Linked DNA regions of Homo sapiens. The protein of the gene in region 2 purifies or fractionates together with the protein of the main gene of each other region. This does not show direct contact. Each region holds a gene or a part of one and is shown on either strand. Other genes may lie near its edges.

Evidence for each region.
Region 1: the proteins of KIF14 (region 2) and URB1 purify together in Homo sapiens (affinity purification with mass spectrometry; 2 studies listed by BioGRID and IntAct, with this or other methods). This does not show direct contact.
Region 3: the proteins of KIF14 (region 2) and OBSL1 purify together in Homo sapiens (affinity purification with mass spectrometry; 2 studies listed by BioGRID). This does not show direct contact.

What each region holds. Positions count from the first base shown.
Region 1 is NC_000021.9:32,347,958-32,351,607, reverse strand, and holds part of URB1 (nucleolar pre-ribosomal-associated protein 1), read left to right. Parts: intron 1-685; coding exon 686-904; intron 905-2,124; coding exon 2,125-2,304; intron 2,305-3,650.
Region 2 is NC_000001.11:200,596,634-200,600,283, reverse strand, and holds part of KIF14 (kinesin-like protein KIF14), read left to right. Parts: intron 1-170; coding exon 171-234; intron 235-1,862; coding exon 1,863-2,047; intron 2,048-3,650. UniProt on the Homo sapiens protein: Microtubule motor protein that binds to microtubules with high affinity through each tubulin heterodimer and has an ATPase activity. Plays a role in many processes like cell division, cytokinesis and also in cell proliferation and apoptosis.
Region 3 is NC_000002.12:219,561,513-219,565,162, forward strand, and holds part of OBSL1 (obscurin-like protein 1 isoform 1 precursor), read right to left. Parts: intron 2,116-3,650; coding exon 1,843-2,115; intron 1,163-1,842; coding exon 890-1,162; intron 497-889; coding exon of another isoform or gene 372-496; exon of another isoform or gene 210-371; intron 1-209. UniProt on the Homo sapiens protein: Core component of the 3M complex, a complex required to regulate microtubule dynamics and genome integrity. It is unclear how the 3M complex regulates microtubules, it could act by controlling the level of a microtubule stabilizer.

The DNA.
Region 1 (3,650 bases), on a different chromosome or scaffold from region 2:
TCTGGGTGGAGCCTGAGAATTTGCATTTCACACATGCTGCTGCAGGCCTGGGGAACACTGACAACCACCAAGTTTCAGGGCATGTTACAGCCTTGGGTTTTATTAGCCTAAGGAAGTCAAATGGAATTATAGCAACATAAGCCACGTGGAGTAAATAAAGAAGGCAGCTTGGTAGTAATGTTAGAAGAAATGAATAACTTCAGTTTGAGGCAGAAGGGCTCCAGAAATTTCTCTGTGTTCTGCCCATCTTCTGTCCTTCTAACAAGATATTCGACCCGCAGCTCCTGGGGAAGGTCTTCCGAAGGCAGGCCACTCGCAGAGCGGGCTTCTCTGTGGGCTGATTTCCCCCTTTCTAGTGATTCTTGTGATTCACATCCTGCCTCTGTCACACGTGGCTCCTGCCTGTGGGACAGGCTTCTGCCTTGTTCTCCAAGGGGTGTAGATGCAGCATGAATTTGGGCCTTCACATGTGGTCAGTGGAAACGCTCTAGGAAAGTACGCATGACATGGTACGAGAACTTACTCTACTGAAGTAAAATGCCACACGGTCCCGTATTCGTTAGTCTTATCTCAGCATGTGCTTCTTTGTGAAATGTCCGTTTGTTGTGTGTTACCTGTGCCTATGACCGTTTTCATCTGTGGTGATGTGTCTTTCTCTTCCCCGGCCTTTTGCTGTCTCCCTCAGCTGCTGCAGGCACAGGGCAGCCCCTCGCCCCCTGCCCTTCCCTTGGCCTCGTCCTTCACAGCCCTGCTGCAGGCAGCCTACGAGAGCCAAGCGCTTCGGGACGAGCACATCCAGGTGCAGCTGCAGGCCACCATGCCACACCTGTCCATGCAGCAGGTCCTGCTCGCGGCCAAGCAGGTGTTGCTCTACCTGCGGAGCACTGTGGAGAACTTCGGCCAGGTCAGCGTTGCCCCCATCCTCCACAGGCTTCAGAGCTCTGCCACCAGAGAGCTAAGCCTTCTCTGAGTCGGGCCCACAGCCCAGCACACTCTTGCTCCCTGGAACTCACTGCAGAGGCAGTTTAAGTGCTGTTCTGTCCAGACCTCAGCTGCAAACTCTTCATGTCCCTCAGCCCTGCCCATGGGAGCCAGGTCAGCCTGACTTTGTTTTCAGGGCAGCCTGGTCAAGACAGAGCCCTTCCTACAGTAGAATGGGTTGGCAGCCCTGCCGGGCCTTTGTTTTTTTTGTCACCAAGTCTGGAGTGCAGTGGCGCATCATAGCTCACTACAGCCTTGACCTCAGTGGACTCAAGCCACCCTCCAACCTCTCAGCCTTTCAAGTAGCTGGGACTACAGGCATGCACCACCATTCCCAGCTAATTTTTGTGTTTTTTGAAGAGATGGGTTCTCACCATGTTGGTCAGGCTGGTCTCAAACTCCTGGGCTCACAGTGATCTGCCTGCCTCAGCCTCCCACAGTGCTGGGATTGCAGGCATGAGCCACCGCACCCAGCCCTCCCTCCCTCTTTTTTTTTTTTTTCTGAGACAGAGTTTCGCTCTTGTTGCCCAGGATGGAGTGCAATGGCAGGATCTTGGCTCACTGCAACCTCTGCCTCCCGGGTTCAAGCTGTTGAACCCTCAACAGCAACCCTCAGCTCACTGCAACCGTCAGCCTCCCTAGTAGCTGGGATAACAAGTGCACACCAACACGCCTGGCTAATTTTTGTATTTTTAGTAGAGATGGGGTTTCGCCATGTTGGCCAGGCTGGTCTTGAACTCCTGACCTCAGGTGATATACCCGCCACAGCCTCCCGAAGTGCTGGGATTACAGGCGTGAGCCACTGAGCCTGGCCCAGCCCTCCCTCTTAAGTGTATTAATTTAGTAACTGGCTGATGAATTTCTGTTCCTGATGTGGTTCAAGGGATTTTTAAGTTTTGAGGTGGGCCTGTCCCTTTCAGTTTAGTCAAAACAACCTTTGTGTTTCACCAAGGCTTAGGAAGACACATCTCTTATTTGAGAAATGGCATTGCATTGATGGGTGTCTCACACACTCTGTGAGGAGTTGCCATCTCAGCCTGCCTCCCGAGTCTCCTGCTCTGAAAACACGGGCCCTGGAAGTCACTGCCTGGTAGCTGTGAACCCGTCTCTTCCCTGCTGAGGCTCGTGCTCTTGTCCTCACAGCTGGGCAGAAGTGTGGGCCCGCCCCTCCTGCAGCTCTTCCTGGATCTCCTCAGGCGCCTGGTTGTCCACTGTGAGCAGCTGGATGCCCAGAACCAGCAGAGATGCGAGGCCGCCCGGGCCGAAGCCGACCTCTTCCTGGACATGGAGTCCGTGGCCTCGCTGGAGTTGGCCAATGATCAGGTACCGCCACAGGTTGCCTGGTAGCCTATTCTCAGAGTCATGGGCAGTGGCTTTCTCTTCACTTCTGATTAAAAACAAACATAGGTCCATTGTGGGAAAATTGGGAAATGCAGAAACTACAGCAGAGATCATAAAAACTTCCTGGCACCCGCCCAGCATGCGGTTTAATTTGGGCTTCTCTTTCCTGTTGCTTTTCTGTGTACAGTCACCCTCCCTGCAGACAGCTTTCTCTCACGCTGTGTGAGGTGAGCCTGCTGAGAAACAGTGTGAATAGCTGCAGCTTGTGTTGAGTGAAAGGTGGGCAGCAGGTGCTGCTTTTCACAGGAAATACACACAGGAAATAGACTGCTCTGAGAAGCAGCAGCCTTTCTGTCCTGTTGGGAGTCTTGGGAAGCAGGCTGTTTAATTGGGGCCAAGATGACTATTTCACAGTTTGCCATGTAACCTGTTTTACCGGGTTCAGGAGGCAGACACGTTCCTTGTTGCACAATCTAATTGAAATATACACTTTTTTCCTTTGAGCTCTGAGTTGCCTTTCTGGGAGGTATTTTCTTGGGTGGGACCACCTATTATTAGCCAGTCAGCGTGAGGCAAAGCATTCTCAATATGTAATCGTGCTTTGCTGTTTTTAACTGGTAAAGCTTGAGTGGAGACTGTGATAGGCTCCTCTTTCCTTCCCTAAGAATAAATAAGGAAAGAAAATTTCTTTCTGTCTCTGGGAACTGGTGGAGTGTCGTTGGCGAGGAATCGGTTCAGCAGGGCTGTGAGGAATGACTGAATGAAATTATTCTCTAATCCAGCAAGGGAGCTCAACTGCATTCTGCTCAATGTTTACTCAGTTGGCCAGGTCAGAACTAGTTTGGGGGTTTTGTGGGGTCACTCAAGGCCCAGTCTCCTCCTGACAGTGGAGACAGGATTACTTTCAATTCAGGATCGTAGACACACGGTGGTTTAATCCCAACCCACTTTCCCCGGACACATGGTCTCATCTAAACTGACATCACCCCAGCTGTAAGTAGACACCCCTGTCCCTCAACCAGATTTATCTAGGAGGGCAAGGCCGCTGAGGAGAAGCCAGCAGCTGATTGATCTTACTCACATGGTGGTGTTTCTGCACGGCCCGCCCCCCACACTGAGTGACCATAGAGAGCACTTTTCCCATGCTGGAAATTCACCCAGGCTGGGTTCTTCAGACACGTGCTCGCAAATGTGGGTGGGGCACCAGCCAGGTCACAGTCCAGTCCTTCCGGGGCAGGTGGAGTGTCTCAGGCGATTGTGGTATAACTGGATGACAGCTCTGGCTGGGCTTGGCTGCGATGCCTTGGGCACCCCGAGGGGGGCATGGA
Region 2 (3,650 bases):
GGATACTGAGTATTTTTCCGACCTTCCTTATGAATAGAGCAGCCCACTCCCAGATTATCATATTTTAAATATTACTAGGTAGTTGCCTAATTTTCATTGATTGTCTCTTGACTCTCAATCTTATACATCTGGATGTTTTTAACTCTGTTATTTTCTTTGTCTTTGGAAAGAGTGTGGAAAGAAAAGTTTGAACAAGCTGAAAAAAGAAAACTTCAAGAAACAAAAGAGTTACAGGTATTATTTCAACTTTCTAAACTGATTAGAAAATAAAAGAAATATGCCAAGAAATAAATATTGCCAATATGCCAATGCATGTAAATTTAATGTTTCAAATACTTACTATATACTGACTCTGTACAAAGCAATACCGTAAGGAAAATTAATATAAAGAAATGTTAAGATCAAGACTGGTTGCTTAGAGCCAGCCCATAAACTAGTTGGAAAGTTAAAGTATGAATAAACCATCTTGTTATATTTACTTTGGTTCTACAAATATATATTAAATGTCTATGCTTTTCAGGAACAGGGGAAGCCAAGGTGATTAAACACAGTTTCATCCCTCAGAGAGCTTGTGATCCAGAGAGAGATTTACAAAACGTAAATAGAAGACTGAAATGCAATGTGATTTCAGTAGATTGAGCCATAAGCAATTGCCATTTTTGTAGGTAAAGCATGGTTGAACACTGGCAGTTTCATATGGTTGAACCTAATGTAATGAAAAGTATTTCAAGTGATTGGTAGTGGGGGAGTACTATAAGAATTCAGGAGAAGAAGGGAAAATTCCTTGCGCATGGCCAATCCAATCTCATAAAAGAGGTGGCATTTGAGATGGGCTTTGAAGTTTGGGTAAGATTTTAATAGGAAGAGAAAAGGAAGAGCACATTCTTGGAAGAGAAAATTCTCTGAAAGTAAAGGTAGAAAAGTTTGAGTTGTCTTTAGAAAGGGTACGTAGATCAGTTTTACTGGAAGCAGTTTATATGAGATCATAAGGAGATACAATTGGAAAGATATGTTATGATTAGTTTATGAAGGACTTGATTTCCAGGCCAAGGAAATTAAGTTTTATCCTGTAGGAAGTGAGAAGCTGTTAAAAAGTGACCAGGGAATTTACATTTTGAGAGCACCCTTTCGAGAGAATTAACCTGGCATAGGATATAAGATGGATTGAAAACAGAAGCTGTTGACGGTGATCAAGAGGCTGCTTCAGTAGTTTTGGTGTGAGTTGACAGGGGCCTGTGGTGAAGGCAATGAAGATGCAACAAAACAAACTGATCTATTCTAAAGACGGTCAGTCAATAAGAAGACACAATTTGGTGATGATAGATTGATGTATGAGTAGACTGAGGATGGTGAAGGACAAAGAAGGTAGGGAGGTCACAAAGGAGAGATTCTAAGGAAGGAGGAGAGAGTCTAAAAAACCTTTATGGCCGGGCACGGTGGCTCACGCCTGTAATTCCAGCACTTTGGGAGGCTGAGGCGGGTGGATCACCTGAGGTCAGGAGTTCGAGACCAGCCTGATCAACATGACGAAACCCTATCTCTACTAAAAATACAAAAATTAGCCGGGCGTGGTGGCATGCGCCTGTAGTCTCAGCTACTTGGGAGGCTGAAGCAGGAGAATCGTTTGAACCCAGGAGGCAGAGGTTGCAGTGAGCCGAGATCGTGCCACTGCACTCCAGCCTGGGTGACACAGCGAGACTCTGTCTCAAAAAAATAAAAATAAAAAAATAAATAAATAACCTTTAATTTAGTGAGACTTCATATAGAATTGTTTTAATGTTTAATATAGACCATTTGTTTTAGGTGAATTTAACAATTTCATACTGTGATTAAGATTAATTTCTTTTTCTGACTTCTACCAGAAAGCAGGAATTATGTTTCAAATGGACAATCATTTACCAAACCTTGTTAATCTGAATGAAGATCCACAACTATCTGAGATGCTGCTATATATGATAAAAGAAGGAACAACTACAGTTGGAAAGTATAAACCAAACTCAAGCCATGATATTCAGTTATCTGGGGTGCTGATTGCTGATGATCATTGGTATGTTAATCCTCTAAAAAAAAAGAAAAGGCACCTGTTCTATATCTTGATAACATGTGGTTTCCTTCATATGGCATATTCGTTGATACTGATCGTTTGGTAGAATTCTTCAAACCCATTGTTTAGTCAGGAAAAACATACATTCTGAGTGTGTTATAAGGATGATAGGTCAGTTACTCTCAATATAAAGTACAGTGTAATGCTCTCTCTGTTTTTGTTTTGGCATACTTGATCTGTTGATTGAAGAATAATTTATTTTCTTGCAATTATAATGATGCACATGCAAGTAAACTATCTATCTTACATAACAGAATTTTTGGTTGGATTGACCAATTTAAAAATGTTACTTTATGTGAATTTTGTTCATATGAATGGAATACTTGTATATATTGTTGGAATGATAGCGTATGTAAACTTTTTTGACTCTGCATTGTGTTTCCAAGATTTGTGTACATTGGTTCCTGTTTTATTTTCACTGCTATGAAGTATTCCATTGTATGAGTTTATCTCTTATAAAGTTTAGGAAGTGCTTTTAAATTGTATGTCTGAGAGTAGAGATACTAGGTTGTAGAATATGTGCATATTCAACTTTAGTAGCTAATTTCAAATTATTTTCCAAAATGAATTTTTACTCCCATTGGCCTTGAGAATACCTGTTACTCCACATCGTTGCCAATACTTAGTACTGTCAGACTTTATGCCAATCTGATGAACACTAAATAGTATATCATTATGGATTCATTTTACATTTCTTTGATTAATAATAAGGTTGAACATCTTTTCATGTGTTGATTGGCCATTTTTGTTTACTATTGTAACTTGCCTCTTCATATCTTTTGTTGATTTTTCAACTGATTTGCTTATTTCTTAATAATTTGTAGGAGTTGCCAATCTTTCGTGAGCTTTTTGGTATAAATATCTTTTTTTCTAACGTGTAACATCTTTTTACTCTCTCTGGTGCCTTTGATTGATTGAAGTTCTTAATTTTATTGTAGTACCTGGCATCAGTCTTTTCCTTTATGATTGTCAGTTTTTATGTCTTAAAGAAAGAATGTTCTGGCTGGGCGTGGTGGCTTATGCCTGTAATCCTAGCACAGGTGTGTGGGCTCAGGAGTTTGAGTCCAGCCTGGGCAACATGGTGAAACCCTGTCTCTACTAAAAATACAAAAAATTTTCTGGGCGTGGTGGTACCTGCCTGTAATCCCAGCTACTCAGGAGGCTGAGGCATGAGAATCGCTTGAACCTAGGAGGTGGATGTTGCAGTGTGCCGAGATCATCATGCCACTGTACTTCAGCCTGAGTGACAGAGCGAGACTATGTCTCAAAAAAAAAAAAAAAAAAAAAAAAAGAGAGAGAGAGAGATAGAGTGTTCTGGCCAGGTGCGGTGGCTCACGCCTATAATCCTAACAGTTTGGGAGGCTGAGGCGGCAGATTACTTGAGACCAGGAGTTCAACATCAGCCTGGCCAACATGGTGAAACCTCATCTCTACTGAAAATACAAAAATTAGCCCGGCATGGTGGTGGGCACCTATAGTCTCAGCTACTTGGGAGGCTGAGGCATAAGAATCACTTGAACCTGGGAGGTGGAAGCTACAGTGAGCC
Region 3 (3,650 bases), on a different chromosome or scaffold from region 2:
GCCCTCAACAACCCATGCTCTAAGATCCTGGAATGCGTCTGGCTTTCCTGCCAGGCTGTGCAGTCCTAGAGGGAAGCGGCCGTGTCTGCGTGCTGCTGGCTCCCGTGTGTGGAAGGGTGACTTTCTCCCAGGCCTCCCTGACCCTCCTGCTCTGTGCTCTTGAGCCCTCTGCCCTTGGCCCTCACAGTACTTATCACCAGGTGTCACTGTACATTTATTTGCATGTTTATTGGTTTAACACAGGGGTCGCAAACTCAAATGCCCACAGGGGCCAGGTTAGGTTAGCGGCTGAAGCAGTCTGGGGAGAGGCAAAAAGCAATGGCAGGGAGGTGGGACAGAGGAATGTGGGCCCCAAACTATGGGGGCAGCTGCTACTCAGTGCCAGCTGTTCGTCGCCATGGGGGGAAGCGGGACCAGAGCCGCCGGGTCTTCGGCTTTTTCAAGAGGACGCATAACTCCGGATTGTTATTTGAACTGTCCTGACTTTGGTAAGACTCTGCAGACCAAACAAAGCACATGTGTGGAATGCGCAGGGCCCCAGGACTACCCGTTTGCGACCCCTGGTTAACAGCTGCCTCCTCACCTAGCCTGGCAGCTCATTCAGAATAGGGACCGTATTTGCATTACTCACCTGCTACTCCCAGTGCCTGATTCAGGGAAAGTGCTCAGTAAATGAGCTGTGGAGCAGAGCTAGGCCTGGCCTTGGGCACCGGGGAGGGGCTTGTTTCCTTGAATAGGGGCCCTGGGCTCATCTCAGCAAGAACCCTGGCACATGCACCTGCAGCCCACACCTCCCTCCTCCCCGGGGTGCTAGCTGGGGCTATGTGGCCAGCTCCTCCAGGGCTCAGGGCTGTCTCTGTGACCCCGGGGAGCTGGGCTGGGCCCACACCTGTGACGGTGACAGTGAAGGAGGCCGACTCATCGTCAATTTCACACAAGTACTCGCCGGAGTCCTCGAGCTGGACAGCGGGCAGCACCAGGCGGCGGACAGTGTCTTCCTTCTGCAGGAGCAGCGCGGGGCTCTCCACCACCTCCTCTCCATCCTTGGTCCAGCGCACCTCTGCCCAGGGCCGGCATAGCTCACAGGTCAGCACCACACGCTCCAGGCGCACGGCTGCCACATACACCTTGCCGCTGGGATACACGATCCACGAGGAGACGTCTGGAGGACAGGGACAGCCACTGCCGGGCATGAGGGGTGTGCCCTGCCGTCCTCCCTGACCCCGTTGTGTTCCCTACCCCTGGAAAGTAGGCCATGTGTTGAAGAGGGACCTTCCTGAGACCAAATCTCACAGCAGCTGACAGTTACTCACAGCTAGAGACACACGAATACAGCTGTCACAAAAGCACAGCAGACTTTCTGCTGCGCAGGAGCTGCACAGAGGGGACCACGGGGTCAGCCTCGGCTGTAGAAACGCTCCACATTCTCTGGGTTGGGACAGGGACGGTATGAAGGGTGGAACTGATGAGAGGAGGGTTGGGGGGAGGAGCTGGGGGTCTCCTCCTCCAAGATGTTTTTGCCCCCCTAGTGCCTGAGACCACCAGCCCTAGACTCTGCCCTACCCTGCAATAGACTCACTGTCCCCAGAGATTTCCCTTGGTACAGGTTTTCAGGAGAATAGAGAAAGCCAGGCTTCCTTAGCCAAGACCAATGTGCTTATGATAACACGTTTCCTGAATGTGACTAGACCATAGCTTGAGGAGAAAGGGAGGAGGTCCGATCTGCCAGGGGGAGGGCAGTAGGGGCGGGGAACAGTGGCCTGGGAGTGAAGGTGTGGCAGCTGTTCCAGTGGGAGCAGGGGCACCTTCCCCTGTGCCTCCGAGGCCCACCTGGCCCCCCACCTGTGATGGTGACAGTGAAGTAGGCACACTCATCTCCAGCGACGCACTGAAACTCGCCCCCGTCTGAGGGCTGGGTGGCGGGCAGCACCAGGCGGCGATGGGGCCCCTCATTCTCCAGCACCACGAAGTCACTCTCCTCCACCTCCTGCCCGTCCTTGTACCAACGCACAGGGGCGTCCTCTCGGTCCACCTCACAGGCCAGCATGACACACTCGGAAGTTATGGCATGCACGAACACATGTTCTCGGGGGTCCACGATGTGCACGGGAGGATCTGGGTGGGAAGCAGAGATGGCATTGCACAGACACCCCCGCACAATGAGTCCAAACTAGCTGTGTGGCCAGGAGACACTGTTTCTGCACAAGAGGACACTGGAGGAGGGCTAAGGTCCTGCTGTGTAGGGACTCAGGGACAATGACAAGGAATGCTGAGGGCATGGCAGGTGAGGCATGGCAGGAGATCATGTGGCACCAGAGTGCTCTGTAGGTCCCCAAAGGATCAGAGGTGGCGGGGTGAGTACATAGAGAGAAGGAAGCACAGAGAGTTCACAGAGTGGCAGCCACCATTTGTCTAGGCTGAAGGGAGGTCACTGTCACAAGTCACATCAGGGCCATGCTTACTGCCTCTATTACGAGAAAGACCCCAGGGTGGGCAGGAGGTGAAGGATGATCCAACAAGTGGCAACAGTGAGACAGCCACTCTCCAGGTAGTGGGTTCCCTGTCACTGGGTGCATTCAGGCAGGGGCCACAGTGTGGAAAACAGGACTCCCACTCAGTGAGATGAGTGGGATCCATGGTTCCCAAGCTGCTCTCTCAGAGAGTCTGCACTTGTTAGGAAAGGATCTTCAGGCTCCACCCTGGATACTGGGGCTCTGGACAGTCCAGGGATTTATAACCAGCTTCCAGGAGCTTCCTAAAGCAGCCAGCCTACGGACTGCCTTGTGAGAACCACGGGGTGACTGCACTCGATGCTTCTGTTTGACTCTATCTGAGGCAGCAGGAACAGAACAATCCTGTGTGTGTCGCCAAGCTATGGTGTGACGGAGGTCACATAACCTCTTACAGCCTCCATTTCTTTGCCTGTGAACTGGAGATATATTGCCCCTCATCGAGTTGTGAAGATTAAATGAAAGAGTGTATATTGAAAATACTTAGCATAGTGCTTGGCTCAGAGTAAGTGTCCAAAAAGTGTTTGCTCCCATCTCTCCTCCCCTTAATTGCATTTTGTTCCCCCACCCAACCCAGCAGAGGCTATGTGGACAGCGAGACAGTGTTAGTGTATCAGGGGTTTAGGAGGCAAAGGCACGCTGTGCGTGGCACACACCTATAATCCCAGCTGCTCAGGAGGCTGAGGAAGGAGGATCGTTTGAGCACAGGAGTTCAAGGCCAGCCTGGGCAACAGTGAGACCCTCATCTTAAAAAAAGAAAGAAAGAAAGAAAGCCAGGCATGGTGGCTCATACCTATAATCCCAGCATTTTAGAAGGCTGAGGCGGGCAGATCATTTGAGGTCAGGGGTGACCTAACCAACATAGTGAAACCGTCTCTACCAAATAATAAAAAAATTAGCTGGGCGTGGTGGCGCGCACCTGTAGTCCCAGCTACTTGGGAGGCTGAGGTGAGAGAATCGCTTTAACCCAGGAGGCGGAGGTTGCAATGAGCTGAGATCACGCCACTGCCCTCCAGCCAGGGCAACAGAGTGAGAGCCTGTCTCCAAAAAAAACAAGAAACAAAAAAGCAAGTGCAGAGTTATCTGAAACATGTCCCCTGGGCCACTGGACTCTCCCTGTAAAGGACTCCCCCAAGTAGG